Linked DNA regions of Homo sapiens. The protein of the gene in region 4 purifies or fractionates together with the protein of the main gene of each other region. This does not show direct contact. Each region holds a gene or a part of one and is shown on either strand. Other genes may lie near its edges.

Evidence for each region. Proteins that work in one complex are often made in the same cells at the same time.
Region 1: the proteins of ABITRAM (region 4) and TAOK1 purify together in Homo sapiens (affinity purification with mass spectrometry; 2 studies listed by BioGRID and IntAct, with this or other methods). This does not show direct contact.
Region 2: the proteins of ABITRAM (region 4) and POTEF purify together in Homo sapiens (affinity purification with mass spectrometry; 2 studies listed by BioGRID and IntAct, with this or other methods). This does not show direct contact.
Region 3: the proteins of ABITRAM (region 4) and TAOK2 purify together in Homo sapiens (affinity purification with mass spectrometry; 2 studies listed by BioGRID and IntAct, with this or other methods). This does not show direct contact.

The regions. Positions count from the first base shown.
Region 1 is NC_000017.11:29,508,861-29,512,368, forward strand, and holds part of TAOK1 (serine/threonine-protein kinase TAO1), read left to right. Parts: intron 1-2,003; coding exon 2,004-2,132; intron 2,133-3,508. UniProt on the Homo sapiens protein: Serine/threonine-protein kinase involved in various processes such as p38/MAPK14 stress-activated MAPK cascade, DNA damage response and regulation of cytoskeleton stability. Phosphorylates MAP2K3, MAP2K6 and MARK2.
Region 2 is NC_000002.12:130,119,217-130,122,724, reverse strand, and holds part of POTEF (POTE ankyrin domain family member F), read left to right. Parts: intron 1-1,426; exon of another isoform or gene 1,427-2,116; 5' UTR 2,117-2,209; coding exon 2,210-2,730; intron 2,731-3,508.
Region 3 is NC_000016.10:29,976,866-29,980,373, forward strand, and holds part of TAOK2 (serine/threonine-protein kinase TAO2), read left to right. Parts: intron 1-872; 5' UTR 873-907; coding exon 908-1,039; intron 1,040-1,223; coding exon 1,224-1,295; intron 1,296-1,386; coding exon 1,387-1,488; intron 1,489-1,933; coding exon 1,934-1,979; intron 1,980-2,108; coding exon 2,109-2,205; intron 2,206-2,329; coding exon 2,330-2,443; intron 2,444-2,551; coding exon 2,552-2,643; intron 2,644-3,508. UniProt on the Homo sapiens protein: Serine/threonine-protein kinase involved in different processes such as membrane blebbing and apoptotic bodies formation DNA damage response and MAPK14/p38 MAPK stress-activated MAPK cascade.
Region 4 is NC_000009.12:108,937,396-108,941,458, forward strand, and holds the end of ABITRAM (protein Abitram), read left to right. Parts: intron 1-1,800; coding exon 1,801-1,877; intron 1,878-1,989; coding exon 1,990-2,059; intron 2,060-2,153; coding exon 2,154-2,291; 3' UTR 2,292-3,559; downstream 3,560-4,063. UniProt on the Homo sapiens protein: Actin-binding protein that regulates actin polymerization, filopodia dynamics and increases the branching of proximal dendrites of developing neurons.

The DNA of each region.
Region 1 (3,508 bases), on a different chromosome or scaffold from region 4:
TAATGTTTTTGGTGTCCCATTGTTTTACTTTTTTTGATAGCCATGTTTGTCAAGTAGAATGTAGACTTCTCAGTAAATTCACACAATATCATTAAAATATGTCCAGGTAGTCTGCAGTGAGGCATTATTTATCATAGCTACCCTCTTCTCCCTTTTCACAAAAAAAGAACATTCTTATAGTAGTAGGGACCCTGACAAAATAATTTATAGTATAAATACATACTTGATTTTGAAATAATTTGATGAAACAATGTATACATATTTAAAATCCTCTGGGCATTGGATATTTTCATTTTTTTATTTTTTATTTTATTTTTATTATTTTTTGAGACAGAATCTCCCTCTGTCGCCCAGGCTGGAGTGCAGTGGTGTGATCTCAGCTCACTGCAACCTCTGCTCTCCAAGTTCAAACAATTCTCCTGCCTCAGCCTCCCAAGTAGCTGAGACTACAGGTGCATCTACCATGCCTGGCTAATTTTTCATCTACCATGCCTGGCTAATTTTTGTATTATTTTTATTTTAGTAGAAAAGGGGTTTCACCATGTTAATCAGGCTGGTCTCAAATCCCTGACCTCAGGTGACCTTCCTGCCTCGGCCTCCCAAAGTGCTGGGATTATAGATGTGAGCCACCACACTTGATAGATATTATTTTTAATAGCTTGGGAAAAGGCGATACTAACATATTTAGGAAAACAATTCCTGAAGCAGATATGCAATGTGGTAACAAATTTGTTTTAAAAGTATATAACCAGGATGGGTGCAGTGGCTCACACCTGTAATCCCACCACTTTGGGAGGCCGAGGTGAGAAGATTACTTGAGCCCAGGAGTTCAAGACCAGCCTGGGCAACATGGGAAGACTCTGTCTCCACACACAAAAAAAATAAATTAGCTGAGCAGGGTGGCATACGCCTTTAGTTCCAGCTACTCAGGAGGCTGAGGTGGGAAGATCACTTGAGCTCAGGAGGAGGCTGCAATGAGCCATGATTGTACCACTGCACTCCAGCCTGGGTGACAGAGTGAGACCCTGTAACATATTTTTTGAGACAGGCACTCGCCCTGTTACCCAGCTGGTCTTGAACTCCTGGGCTCAGGTGATCCTCCCACCTCAGCCTCTCAAAGTGTTGGGATTACAGGTATGAGCCACAATACCTACTTAATTATATACATGCAAATATATGTGTGTATGTGTATGTGTGTGTGTTTGAGACATGAACATTTATAGAAAAAATTAGAGGCCGGGCATGGTGGCTCACGCCTGTAATCCCAGCACTTTGGGAGGCCGAGGTGGGTGGATCACCTGAGCTCAGGAGTTCAAGACCAGCTTGGCCAACATGGCAAAACCCCATCTCTTCTAAAAATACAAAAATTAGCCAGGCGTGGTGTCACACACCCGTAGTCACAGCTACTTGGGAGGCTGAGGCAGGAGAATCACTTGAACCCGGGAAGCGGAGGTTGCAGTGAGCCGAGCTCGTGCCACTGCACTGCAGCCAGGGTAACAGAGCAAGACTCCATCTCAAAAATAATAATTTTAAAAAAAGAAAAAATTGCAAAAGATATGCACCAAAATGTTTACATTGGTTATCTCTGGATGCCAAAATTATGTAAGATGTTTCTTGTTTTTCTGTATTTTGTAAATATTCTACAATGAACATGTATTGCATATAGAATCAGAAATAAAATATAGCATTTGTTTTGTTTTACTGAGGGATTGAGGGTTGGGAGGAAGGTATACTTCTGTTAAATGAAATAAAAAGTTGACAACATTTTTGACCCTGTAAGAGATCAACATTTCAAAGATGAGTTTCATCTTACTGATTCTATGAAGTTCAAATTATAAGGATGCCAAGTAGCACATGTTTATAATTTGGTTCAGTCTTTTATTTTGGTAATGTTTCTAATGATTTCTTGTTCTTAGAAAATAAAAGGTATTCTTAATGATGTATATTAAACCACTACTTTATCTACTTAACTAAATTTGATTCATTTTTTAAACTTCATATAGGCTAAAGTGATGTCCAATGAAGAGAAAAAATTTCAGCAACATATTCAGGCCCAACAGAAGAAAGAACTGAATAGTTTTCTCGAGTCCCAGAAAAGAGAGTATAAACTTCGAAAAGAGCAGCTTAAAGAGGTACTTATGTCATAAAACTTTCCAAGCAAATTTTCTGCTTATTAATTATATCCAATGGTGACCAACTCATAGAAGCATTAGGATAAAATTATCTTTTGTTGTTTATGGTCACTAAATGGGTATTAGTTTAAATGATGACATTGATTATAATCAGTTACCCTTAACTGAGTCATTTAGTTGAGTAGGATTTAAAATGAATCATTTCCTGAAAATATACTTTTTTTATGTTTTTATTTTATATTTATTTATTTATTTTTGAGACAAAGAGTCTCGCTCTGTCACCCAGGCTCGAGTGCAGTGGCGCGCTCTCGGCTCACTTCAAGCTCTGCCTACTGGGTTCACACCATTCTCCTGCCTCAGCCTCCCTAGTAGCTGGGACTACAGGCGCCCACCACCACACCCGGCAAACATTTGGTATTTTTTTTAGTAGAGACGGGGTTTCACCATGTTAGCCAGGATGGTCTCGATCTCCTGACCTTGTGATCCGCCTGCCTCGGCCTCCCAAAGTGCTAGGATTACAGGCATGAGCCATCGTGCCTGGCCTTATGTTTTTATTTTTTGTGTGTATTTTTTGAGACAGTCTTATTCTGTTCCACGGGCTGGAGTGCAGTGGCACAATCATAGCTCACTGCAGCTTCGACCTCCCGTGCTCAAGCAATCCTGCTTTAGCCTTCCAAGTAGCTGGGAACACAAGCACACACCACCACTCCTGGCTGATTTTTAAATTTATTTTTTGTAGAGACAGGGTCTTGCCATGTTGCCTAGTCTGGTCTCAAACTCCTGGGCTCAAGCAGTCCGCCTACCTCGGCTTCCCAAAGTGCTGGGATTATAGGCATAAGCCACCGCACCTGATCACATTTATTACTTTAAAAGTAAACAATAATGTCTTACTTTTGGATCAGAAGATTATAATAATTTGTTTTTATGCCAATTTAAATGTAGAATAAGGGAGATATTTGCTTATCAGGTTTTTTTTAAGTAGAATATGCTGATTATTTCTTTGTGGCTACAGGGTTTCATATTTGTTTGCCCTTTCTTGTGCTGCCCGGCCTCCCCCCTACCCCCCGCTTTTTTTTTGAGACGGAAGTCTCACTCTGTCATACAGGCTGGAGTGCAGTGGTGTGATCTTGGCTCACTGCAGCCTCCCCTCCCCCCAGGTTGAAAGGATTCTCCTGCCTCAACCCCCCCGAGTAGCTGGGATTACAGGTGTGTGCCACCATGCCTGGCTAATTTGTATATATTTTTTTAGTAGAGACGGGGTTTCACCATGTTAGCCAGGCTGGTTTCAAACTCCTGACCTCAGACAATCTACCCACCTCGGCCCCCCAAAGTGCTGGGATTACAAGAGTTAGCCACCACTCCCGGCTCTTGTGCTG
Region 2 (3,508 bases), on a different chromosome or scaffold from region 4:
GAAAATTATAGCACATTGATGAAAGAAATTGAAAGTGACAAATAGAAAAAGTCCTATATCAATTGAAAAAATTAATATTGTCAAAATTTCAATGCTACTCAAAGCATTCTACAGATTAAATGCAACCGCTGTCAAATTCCAATGTCATTCTTCACAGAAATAGAAAAATTAGTCCTAAAATCTGAATGGAACCACAAAAGATGCTGAAAAACGAAAGCAATCTTTAGCAAAAAGAACAAACCTGGAGGCATCAGACTACCTAATCTTTGACAAAGCAAACAAGAAAATGGGAAAGGACACCCTATTCAACATATGCTGCTGGTATAATTGGCAAGCCACATGCAGAAAAATGAAGCCGTTCTTCAAAGGTTAAATACAGAATTACCACATGACTCAGTAAATTCACTCCTATGTATACACCAAAAATAAATTAAAACAAATGCCTTACACATAAAAGTATTTATAGCAACAAAAAGTAGGAAACAACAGAAATGTCCATGAATTTTGGAGTGGATTAATAAAATGTGGTCTGTCCATAAAATAAAATATTACTTGGCAATGAAAAAGAAAAACATATTAATACATGCTCCAAAAAGGATGAACATTGAAAACATGATAAATGAAAGTAGTAAGTCACACGTAACTATATTATTATGATTCCACTTACATGAAATGTCCAGAATAGGCAAATCCTTCCAGAATAGGCAAATTCTTAGGTAATAGATGGATGATTGCCTAGGGCTGGGAGAGGTTTAAAGGAAGAATGGGGAAAATAGGGAAAGATTGCTAATGGGTGCAAAGTTTCTTTTAAGGAGCATAAAAATGTTCTAAAATCATGGTGATTGTTTAACTAGTTAATACACTTAAAAAACTGAATTTTATACTTTAAATGAGTGAATTAAATAATATATAAATTGTATCTCAATGAACCTGTGAAAAAAGTTAAAAAATATGTGGTATGCATAAACAAAAAGTTCTTCATTTTATTTCCTAGGGTTTTGGGGAAAAGGTGGTGTTTGATTATATGAGTAAGTTCTTTAGAGGTGATTCAGGAGATTTTGGTGCACCCAACACCTGTGCAGTATACACTGTATACACTGCACCGGGGCAGGAGCTGGCTGCAATCCTGTGGCCCCAAATGCCCCCTTGCTGATGGCCTCGTGTTCTGGGTGCGGAGCAAAGAGGAGCAGGTGTTGAAGGCACCTCAGGCAGGCCCTGGGCTCGGTGGGCGTCTTGTGCTCCGCGATTTTGAGGCCATTTGCAGCCAGCTCCGTCAGCCCGAGCTCCCAGCTGCAGCTGCTGCCATGCACAACAGCACCGCCAGGAGTGTCCTGGGGGCTTTTTTCAAAGGAGGCTGTCAGCATCCTCAAGTTCCAGACGCTTAGCCCCAGTCCTCCTTTAAGAGGCTTTTTTTTTTTCACCAGAGGCTTCTCAGTGGCTTGAAAGCTCAGCTGACTCCCACGAAGTTTGCCGGAACTCAAGGCTGTCAGTGACATTCGTGGCGCCAAGACTTAAGCAGGCGCGTTGCATGCATCGGCCAGTGTCTGTGCCACGTGCCCTGACGCCACCTGAGATAAGCACGCCGCACGCGCACGCGCACGCCGCGCGCACACGCCCGGCAGCAGCTTGGCTGGCTTGTAACGGCTTGCACGCGCACGCCGCACGCGCATAACGGTTTGGCCGGCCTGTAACGGCTTGCACGCGCACGCCGCACGCGCGTAACGGCTTGGCTGGCCTGTAATGGCTTGCACGCGCATGCTGCACGCGCTTTAACGGCTTGGCTGGCCTGTAGCGGCTTGGCTTGGCTTTGCGTTCTTGGCTTGGCTTGGCGTTGGTAGCTTGGATTGACGTTTCCTGCTTGGATTGACGTTTTCTCTCTCGTGTTCCTTTGCTGGGCTTGACCTTTTCTCTGCTGGGTTTGGCATTCCCTTGGGTGGGCTGGGTGTTTTCTTGGGGGCGGGGGTTGGCCCTTTCTGGGGTGGGCGTGGGGTCGCCCAGGGGGGGCGTGGGCTTTCCTCGGGTGGGTGTGGGTTTTCCCTGGGTGGGGTGGGCTGGGCTGGAATCCCCTGCTGGGGTTGGCAGGTTTTGGCTGGGATTGACTTTTCTCTTCAAACAGATTGGAAACCCGGAGTTACCTGCTAGTTGGTGAAACTGGTTGGTAGACGCGATCTGTTGGCTACTACTGGCTTCTCCTGGCTGTTAAAAGCAGATGGTGGTTGAGGTTGATTCCATGCCGGCTGCCTCTTCTGTGAAGAAGCCATTTGGTCTCAGGAGCAAGATGGGCAAGTGGTGCTGCCGTTGCTTCCCCTGCTGCAGGGAGAGCGGCAAGAGCAACGTGGGCACTTCTGGAGACCACGACGACTCTGCTATGAAGACACTCAGGAGCAAGATGGGCAAGTGGTGCCGCCACTGCTTCCCCTGCTGCAGGGGGAGTGGCAAGAGCAACGTGGGCGCTTCTGGAGACCACGACGACTCTGCTATGAAGACACTCAGGAACAAGATGGGCAAGTGGTGCTGCCACTGCTTCCCCTGCTGCAGGGGGAGCAGCAAGAGCAAGGTGGGCGCTTGGGGAGACTACGATGACAGTGCCTTCATGGAGCCCAGGTACCACGTCCGTGGAGAAGATCTGGACAAGCTCCACAGAGCTGCCTGGTGGGGTAAAGTCCCCAGAAAGGATCTCATCGTCATGCTCAGGGACACTGACGTGAACAAGCAGGACAAGCAAAAGAGGTAACCAGGCCTGGGCTGGGAGGAGGTGGGACGTGGGGGGATGATGGGGACATACCCTCCTGGCGGGGGAGGAGGGGGACCTGGCTTTCTCGCCTCCGCAGGCCTCACACCACCCTGGATGTGGAAACCTCAGAGAGGTCAGGGTACAGGGCCCTTTATGAACAGCAACACAAAAACAAAACTTTAGCTGATTTCCAATCATAATTTCCCTCATAGAACACTAATAGACTGTTTTAAAGTGATTTAACTTGCAAAATTAATTAAGTCAATGCAGCAGATTATTTTTAATCTACAGATTTTAAAACAATGTTCTATACATTATAGAAAAGTGTATATTGAGAACTAAGAACGAAGCCCCATAACACATCAACTTCAGGGCTAAATATTCTTCAAATAAAATCCAGTATGGATTTTATATCAATGTACAGTATGTAAATATGTTCTTTACTGAGGAACCTTAGAAGGAAACTGAAATGGGAAGATGGTTCCTGTGCTTGAACAGGAAGATTGAATTTTCTTAAGATGTGAGCTTTTTGGCTGGGCGCGGTGGCTCACGCCTGTAATCCCAGCACTTTGGGAGGCGGGCGGATCATGAGGTCAGGAGATTGAGACCATCCTGGCTAACACGGTGAAACCCTGTCTCTACTAAAAAATATAAAAAAAATTAGCCGGGTGCGGTGGTAGACGCCTGTAGTCCCGGCTACTCAGGAGGCTGAGGCAGGAGAATGGCGTGAACCCGGGAGGTGGAGCTTGCAGTGAGCCGAGATAGTGCCACTGC
Region 3 (3,508 bases), on a different chromosome or scaffold from region 4:
CGAAGGGCTGCTCTGAAATCATAGTGATGGAGGACCAGCTTTGGACAAGGCACTTAACCTTGCTGAGCCTGTTTCTTTATCTGTAAGATAGGGGAAATCATAGTACTTGCTTCATAAGGTTGTAGTGAGGACTGAATAGAGATAATGCACGTAAGGTACTCAGTAAATGTTATTTGTACCCTGCAAATGTCCTGTACCTGTGTGTGATGCTTATGCAGTTGGACAGGACAAGTAAGGTGGCCCAGAGCACAGAGAGGCCCTCATAGCCAGATGCCATTTATATCCCTATTCTTCCCATTCTAGATCTCCCCCTGACTTTTTTGAGAGTGACTTTGCGGGCTCCTCTGGGCCAGTACCCACTTCTAACAATGGACGGATTTCCACCGCCTCCGGCCTGGCCATTTCCTGTTCTCTTCCAGGGTGTGAGAGGTTGAGGGAGGAGGGGGCCTCAGCGCCAAGGGGAACAGAAAGGTGCCTGGAAACAGTTGGGGTATAGGACTTATGGGACAGGACACTTGGGGCTCTGGAGTGCTGGCTGGGAAGCAGAATGTTTTATCCTTGAGGGGAGATACAGGGGCTATAGGGAAATGAGAACTTGTTGAGCACTGAAGGGGGTGGTGAGGATACTTAGCTTCCCAGAATCTTCCTAGCAGTTTTAGGGACTCCAGGGACCCAGCCCGCGTGATCTGGTTGCCAGGGCAACTTCATTTTTTGGAGCTTTGATGTTGTTCCTAATCTCCCCCTCCCCTTCCTCAGCAGTGCCTCCTCCTCATCAGGGAATGAGGGGAGGAGATGGCAGAAACTTGATGGGTCCCTTCCTCTCCCTGAAGGCTCAATCCTTGATCTCTAAGGGTCCCATTTCCATTCCTCAGGCCAGGCCCCACTCTCAGGGCCCCCAGGGGCCACCATGCCAGCTGGGGGCCGGGCCGGGAGCCTGAAGGACCCAGATGTGGCTGAGCTCTTCTTCAAGGATGACCCAGAAAAGCTCTTCTCTGACCTCCGGGAAATTGGCCATGGCAGCTTTGGAGCCGTATACTTTGTGAGTTGGGTCTTGGGAGGGTGTAATAGGGATGGGGACTCTTCCTATCCCTGTGGACTTCCCAACAGCCCTTGCACACTACTCCATCACACTGGTCTTTCCTGCCTTCTCTTGCTGGGCCAGCAAGTCTTCCCATGCCCGGCTCTCAATGGGGCCTTCAACACCTTCTGGTCTGGTCCTCTAGGCCCGGGATGTCCGGAATAGTGAGGTGGTGGCCATCAAGAAGATGTCCTACAGTGGGAAGCAGTCCAATGAGGTGGGCCAGGTGCAATACAGCCAGGTTGGGGACAGGGGACTCCTGTCTCAAGATGCAAGCTGGGTAACCTCTGCCTACCCTGACCCCCTAGAAATGGCAAGACATCATCAAGGAGGTGCGGTTCTTACAGAAGCTCCGGCATCCCAACACCATTCAGTACCGGGGCTGTTACCTGAGGGAGCACACGGCTTGGGTGAGCTGGTGCCAGATTCTGGCCTGATCTTTACTCCTATTCATGCCCGTCCTTATCGTAGTCCAGTCTCTTAGGTGGTCCCTGTTCGTGGTGCTGTTGTGGGATCTTGGGAAGGAGGAAGTCTCTTTTGACCGCTTTAGTCCTCAGACATACCCACTGAGCAAAAGCCTGGCTCAGTGACACAGGCTGTTAGCAGGTGGGACAGGTCACTGTGGGCTGGAGAAGGTGGAGATTGAATGGGAGTTTGAAGGGATTCAGATGGGCAGTGGTGAATGTCTTGGGCCCAGACTCTAGAAACTCTCCCACCACCCCCTCATTGTCTCCAGTTGCGCTTCCTCCCTGTCATCACCCCGGGGACATAGCTTGAGTACAGGACAGTCAAGGAAGCTCTGTTTTGAGTCCCTGCCCAGGAGACTCTGATCTCTGACCCTTGTCTCTTCCTTAGCTGGTAATGGAGTATTGCCTGGGCTCAGCTTCTGACCTTCTAGAAGGTAAGTGACTGATAGGCCAATAAGTGGAGAAGGGAGAAGAGCAGGGGAGCCATAGGGAAGGGTTAAGGGGAGTTTATTCCAGTCCCACCCTTGCGCTCCCTCGGGTTGATGTTCTTCCTCACTCTCCAGTGCACAAGAAACCCCTTCAGGAGGTAGAGATCGCAGCTGTGACCCACGGGGCGCTTCAGGGCCTGGCATATCTGCACTCCCACAACATGATCCATAGGTACAAGCAGCACCGGCAGTGCCTGGGAGGGGAGTGCTATCTGCACCACCTGTCACTTAGCTGGGCTGCCCCTGCCTAGCTTTCTTGAGACACATGTCTCATCCCTGTACTTTGCCTCTGGCAGGGATGTGAAGGCTGGAAACATCCTGCTGTCAGAGCCAGGGTTAGTGAAGCTAGGGGACTTTGGTTCTGCGTCCATCATGGCACCTGCCAACTCCTTCGTGGGCACCCCATACTGGTGAGTGAGTGAGTGGTGGTGAGTGGAGAGACCTCCCAGGGATGTTGGGAGTAGGAGTGACAGGGTCTCGGCGGGTGATTTGCCTCTCTCTCCTGACCATTCTCCTAGGATGGCACCCGAGGTGATCCTGGCCATGGATGAGGGGCAGTACGATGGCAAAGTGGACGTCTGGTCCTTGGGGATAACCTGCATCGAGCTGGGTAAGAACATCCTCCCTGTTCCCTCATCATCTTTTCCATTCTTTCCTGTTAGTTCCCAGACTCCGGACTACCCCCTTCTCCTAGGGATGGGATCCCAGGCCTCCAAGTTCCTGTCCGTTGTGACTCTACCCTGGAGCCCAATACAGGCAGCTGGCAAATTCTGCCAGCTCTTAGGCCTAGAGATTTTGTAGCATTCATCTCTTCCTGTCCACTACCCTGGTTCTGAATCTTTTCTTAGTGCCCACCATGTGCTGTGCCATGGACTGTGATTCTGGAGGGATAGCAGTGAATGAAAATCCTGCCCTCATGGAACTTACATTTGATTTAGGGAAACCAGGCAGGCATGTTTTCTTTCAATGTGATGAACGCTGTGTGGAGAAGTTACAGGAGCGGTTCAAATGTAAAACAGGGGACTTGACCTAGTTTAGGGGCTGAAGAAGGCCTCCTTGTAGGAGAATATTGAAGCCAACCTGCAAGATAAATAATAGCTGTTTGCAGAATGTAGGGAAGAGCTTTCCAGGCAGAGAGAACAGCATGTGAGAGGCCTAGAGGTAAGTGCAGGCCTGGGGAACTGGGACTAGCTTCAGTTATTTGGAACCTAGCATGTAATGCAGAGAATATTGAAGGATAAGGCCAGAGAGTTAGGTCCAAGTGAGTTCCTAAGGCCTTGAAGCCATGCCAAGGTTCTCATCTCTGTCAGCCAGCACTATTGAAACAATTCTTTAATGAGGTAGGTAACCTTTATAAGGCTTCCAACACAATGCCAGGCACAAAACAGTTGCCTAAGAGTTGCTGTTAGTTTCTCTTATCAACAGCCTCCTGCAGTGATCTCTCCAGTCTCTTCTCCCTTCCAGTCTGTCTTAAG
Region 4 (4,063 bases):
ACAAACCCACTGGTTGGGAAAGTTTCTGTGGATGATTTAAGTCGTTCATTTACTGAGTTCATACTAAGAGTTTCTGCTAATTGCTCTCACTATTCTAGGAGACCCTTATTCAAACCCCCCTTTGTAGGCCTGAAGTCCCCTAATAATTACTGATTTATTGTGCTTTACAATTACTGATTTTTCCTCACTCAAGAAACTAGTGGACTTAGAAAAGCATGCACCTCTCTTAAACGATAGTCTACAAGTTACAATAACACTTAAGACTTCTGAAGTTTCAATGATAAATCTCTGTCCAAAATAGTAACACTTAAGGCAGGTACAGTTGCTCATGCCTGTAATCCCAGCACTTTGGGAAGCCGAGGCGGGAAGATCACTTGAGGCCAGGAATTTGTGACAAACCTAGGCAACATAACAAGACCTCATTTCTACCAAAAAAAAAAAATTTTTTTTTAATTAGCTGGGCATGGTGGCATGTGCCTATAGTCCCAGTTACCCAGGAGGCTGAGGTAAGAGGATTGCTTGAGCACAGGAGTCAAGGCTGCAGTGAGCCATGATGGCAGCACTGCACTCCAGCCTGGATGACAGAACAAGACCCTGTCTCAAAAAAAAAAAAAAAAAAAAGTAACACTCCTGTTACAAGTGAAGAACAGAGAGGGACCTGCATATTGAACCCACTACAGTAAGTTTTCACTGGATCTCAGAACTGCCAATCATTCTCCCAAAGGAGGTGACAAAAAGGCATCAAAACATTTCTGCTGTTTTGGCACAGACCTAGCTCTTTTGTGTCTGCTCTTTTAACACAAGCCTTCCCCTTCCTTCCAAAAGCAGAAAGTCACAATGACTCTAGTATTTTAAAATGAAGAACCCACGTGCGGAGGAGTGAAGCCAATATAGTAATATCTGAATGCCATCTAAAAATGTTTTGAGTGGTAAATAAAGGGGTCATAAAGAATAGCATCTTAACCTGAAATGCCTATGTCCACTACAGGAAAAATTCATGGGAGAAAAGAGGGCAACACATGAAACATGCCTGCACTGGCTCTCATGAGCCTCCCTGTAGATACTTGTGAGAGCCTCCCCAGGTATATCCATCTAGTGGAGTACATGAAACAATAACCATGCCATGACATTCAAATACATACACATCAAAATGTAGTATTGACTCATGGGTCAATTATTTTTATTTTGCTGCTTAAAACTTTTGTTTTCCACATTTTCCTCAAAGTGCATGTTTTTGTTTTTGTTTTTCTTAACTAGAAAAAATATCCCTTACTAACACACTGGGGAATTACAAAGGGGGGGGGGGGAAAGAACAATATCCCTTCTTCAAAAAGTCTTAGTGATTGACCCTGGTAAATAAGTTCCTTTATCTATTAAGTTCTAATATTAAAATGAGGTAGAAATCTTAATGAAACTAACTTTATACAATATTGCTGTCATACTGTGTCATGTTGAATTTTATATTGTTTCTTGTTGATGGATTTTCCCACACTTTTGAAATCTTTATACCTGGTTATATGTAGCTTTTTCATTTACAGTTGATAAAATATATTATCAGTCTGTAAATTCCCATTTATCATGTGTCTTAGCTTTTTTCCCTAGACCTAGGATGGCACCTGGCACACAGTAGGTACTTATATTCATATAGGTTCTGAAATTAATGAATGGTTTTTATATACTGAAGTAACTGATTTAAAACACCAGTTCCAGGAATACATCCTGTTATACACCTAAGGGCTACTTCTCAAAGGAAAGTGGAAATGTCCATCAACTGATTACTTCTTCCGTCTCATTACACAGGGGGCACAGTTTCTAACAGAGCTTGCACCTCTCTGTAAGATTTACTGCTCAGATGGTGAAGAATATACTGTGTCTAGGTGAGTAACTTTTTAGCCACCATTTAGGAGACCAAAGGGAGGTAATTTTTTTTCTTAGAAACAATTTTTTTTAACTAAGTAAACATGCTGAAATCTTAAATTTTTTTAATAGTTGTGTTAGAGGACGTTTGATGGAAGTGAATGAAAACATCCTCCATAAGCCATCTATTCTTCAAGAAAAGGTAAAAGAGAGAGAAAAAATATGATCTCATCCACATACCTTTTATTGGTTTTTTTTTCATCGTTTGACAGTACTAAATGTTCTTTCCTTTCCAGCCATCTACTGAAGGCTACATTGCAGTTGTGTTACCCAAATTTGAAGAAAGTAAAAGCATAACAGAAGGGTTACTGACACAAAAACAATATGAAGAAGTCATGGTGAAACGCATTAATGCCACAACAGCTACGTCATGAGGATTGACATGGAACAAAAAGCAAAGTGGGATTCTTGTTACCTGGCCTAAACCATCAGGGTACTAAAGGAGAAGAACCAGTATATGTAAAGCATACCTAACAGCCAGCCATATGCAGGGGAGGCCTAGTGCTTCACTTAGTTTTCCCTCTCTGTCTTCATAATGAGCCTTGGTTCCCATTTGTCTACAGCCTGCCAGATCTGGCCTGCCCATGTACTCACACTGTTCTCTTGCATCTCTCTAACAACTGGCATGCAAGGCATGTTTTTCTGATTAAAAACAAACAAAGCTCTTTGAAGAAGATTTAGAAAATACAGAAGAGTTTTAAGTAGCCAAGTAAAAATAATTTACCCATCATCCCATAATCCAGAAGTAAATACATTTGACCCTTGAGCAACATAGGTTTGAACTGCAAGGGTCCACTTATGCATGGACTATTTTCAACTATAAACGAGTCAAAAATATATCATTAACCAAACACGAAACCCACTTATAGAGCAGGTTCATATACTCAGGTTCCAAAGGGCCAACTGCAGGACTTGAGTTCTCACGTATGGATTTGGGTATATGTGGAAGTTCCTGGAACCAATCCCCTATGTAAACCAAGGGATAACTACTACATTTTAACCTACTTCTGTTTGAACATATGGTATGGTTATTGCTTTTGCCTCGTTTTCCTAACAGTTTGAAGTTTAAAAAAACCTAACCCACCTTTCTTACCCAGTCTTCTATAATGTGCCTACCAAAAAGCCTAGTCCTAGCCCATCTGCCTCAACTCCTCTCCCTTTTAGGTTGTAGGGAAGAGGCCGGAGTGTAGAGTATATTATATCTTCTGTCCCCCTTATGCCAACAAGATGGCCTTCCCCTCTGAAACAAAGTAAAACTGCAACACTGTGACTTCTTAAATGAGGGATATGTGAAAAGGCTATGAAAAATACAAAGGCTTTCCTAGGAAATGTGTTATAATGCAGCGGGAAGCTAATTCTTGAAATATGCACATTATAGTTACTCAGTCTCACATACTCTAGTTACTGGCAAAGAAGTTACTGAGAATATGTCATTCAAAGGCATAGGGGCCTTTGAATGGAACAAATGCTTTCACATCATTTAAAGTAAAAAAAAACCTCCAACAACTGTGAATTTATAGTTTAAGAGTGATTTACACTGAATTTCAAATAAAAGGACTATAAAACGTGTTATTTTTCTGTAAGGGCTATAACATACATGTCAATATCACTGTTTTTAAATAAAATATACTTTTATACAGAAGAAATCATTCGATGTATTAATTCCATTGGTTATCTATCCTCTTATGCTGTTGAAGTCATAAGTTACCCCTTCCCAACCCCCACTTGCTCTTTCTTTCACTAGAGAACAGTATTTTTTCAGGTATGCAAAAATATTATCTAATGAAAGTACAAGTGGGGGTTGGAATTTTTAAGTTTTAATTATTTACAAAATAATACTTACTTATTTTGTAAATAAAACAACATTTTGGTTCATAGGAAAAACTTGTAATCTGAGTGCCAGCATGACTATCCCCCTAAATATACCCCCCAGACATGATACATGTAGTAAGTGGATAAACACCTCCACGATGGTGCTATTAGCTGAAAATATAAACAAACCAGCAGATCCTCACTTTAAGTAGCACAATGACTCTTGAAGGCGTCATAAAACTATGACAGTAAACGTAGTAAAAGAATTGTGTATAACATTTTACATGTAACATTACCTCACATCATTCTCCCATTATTTCTATTGTAATTTAAA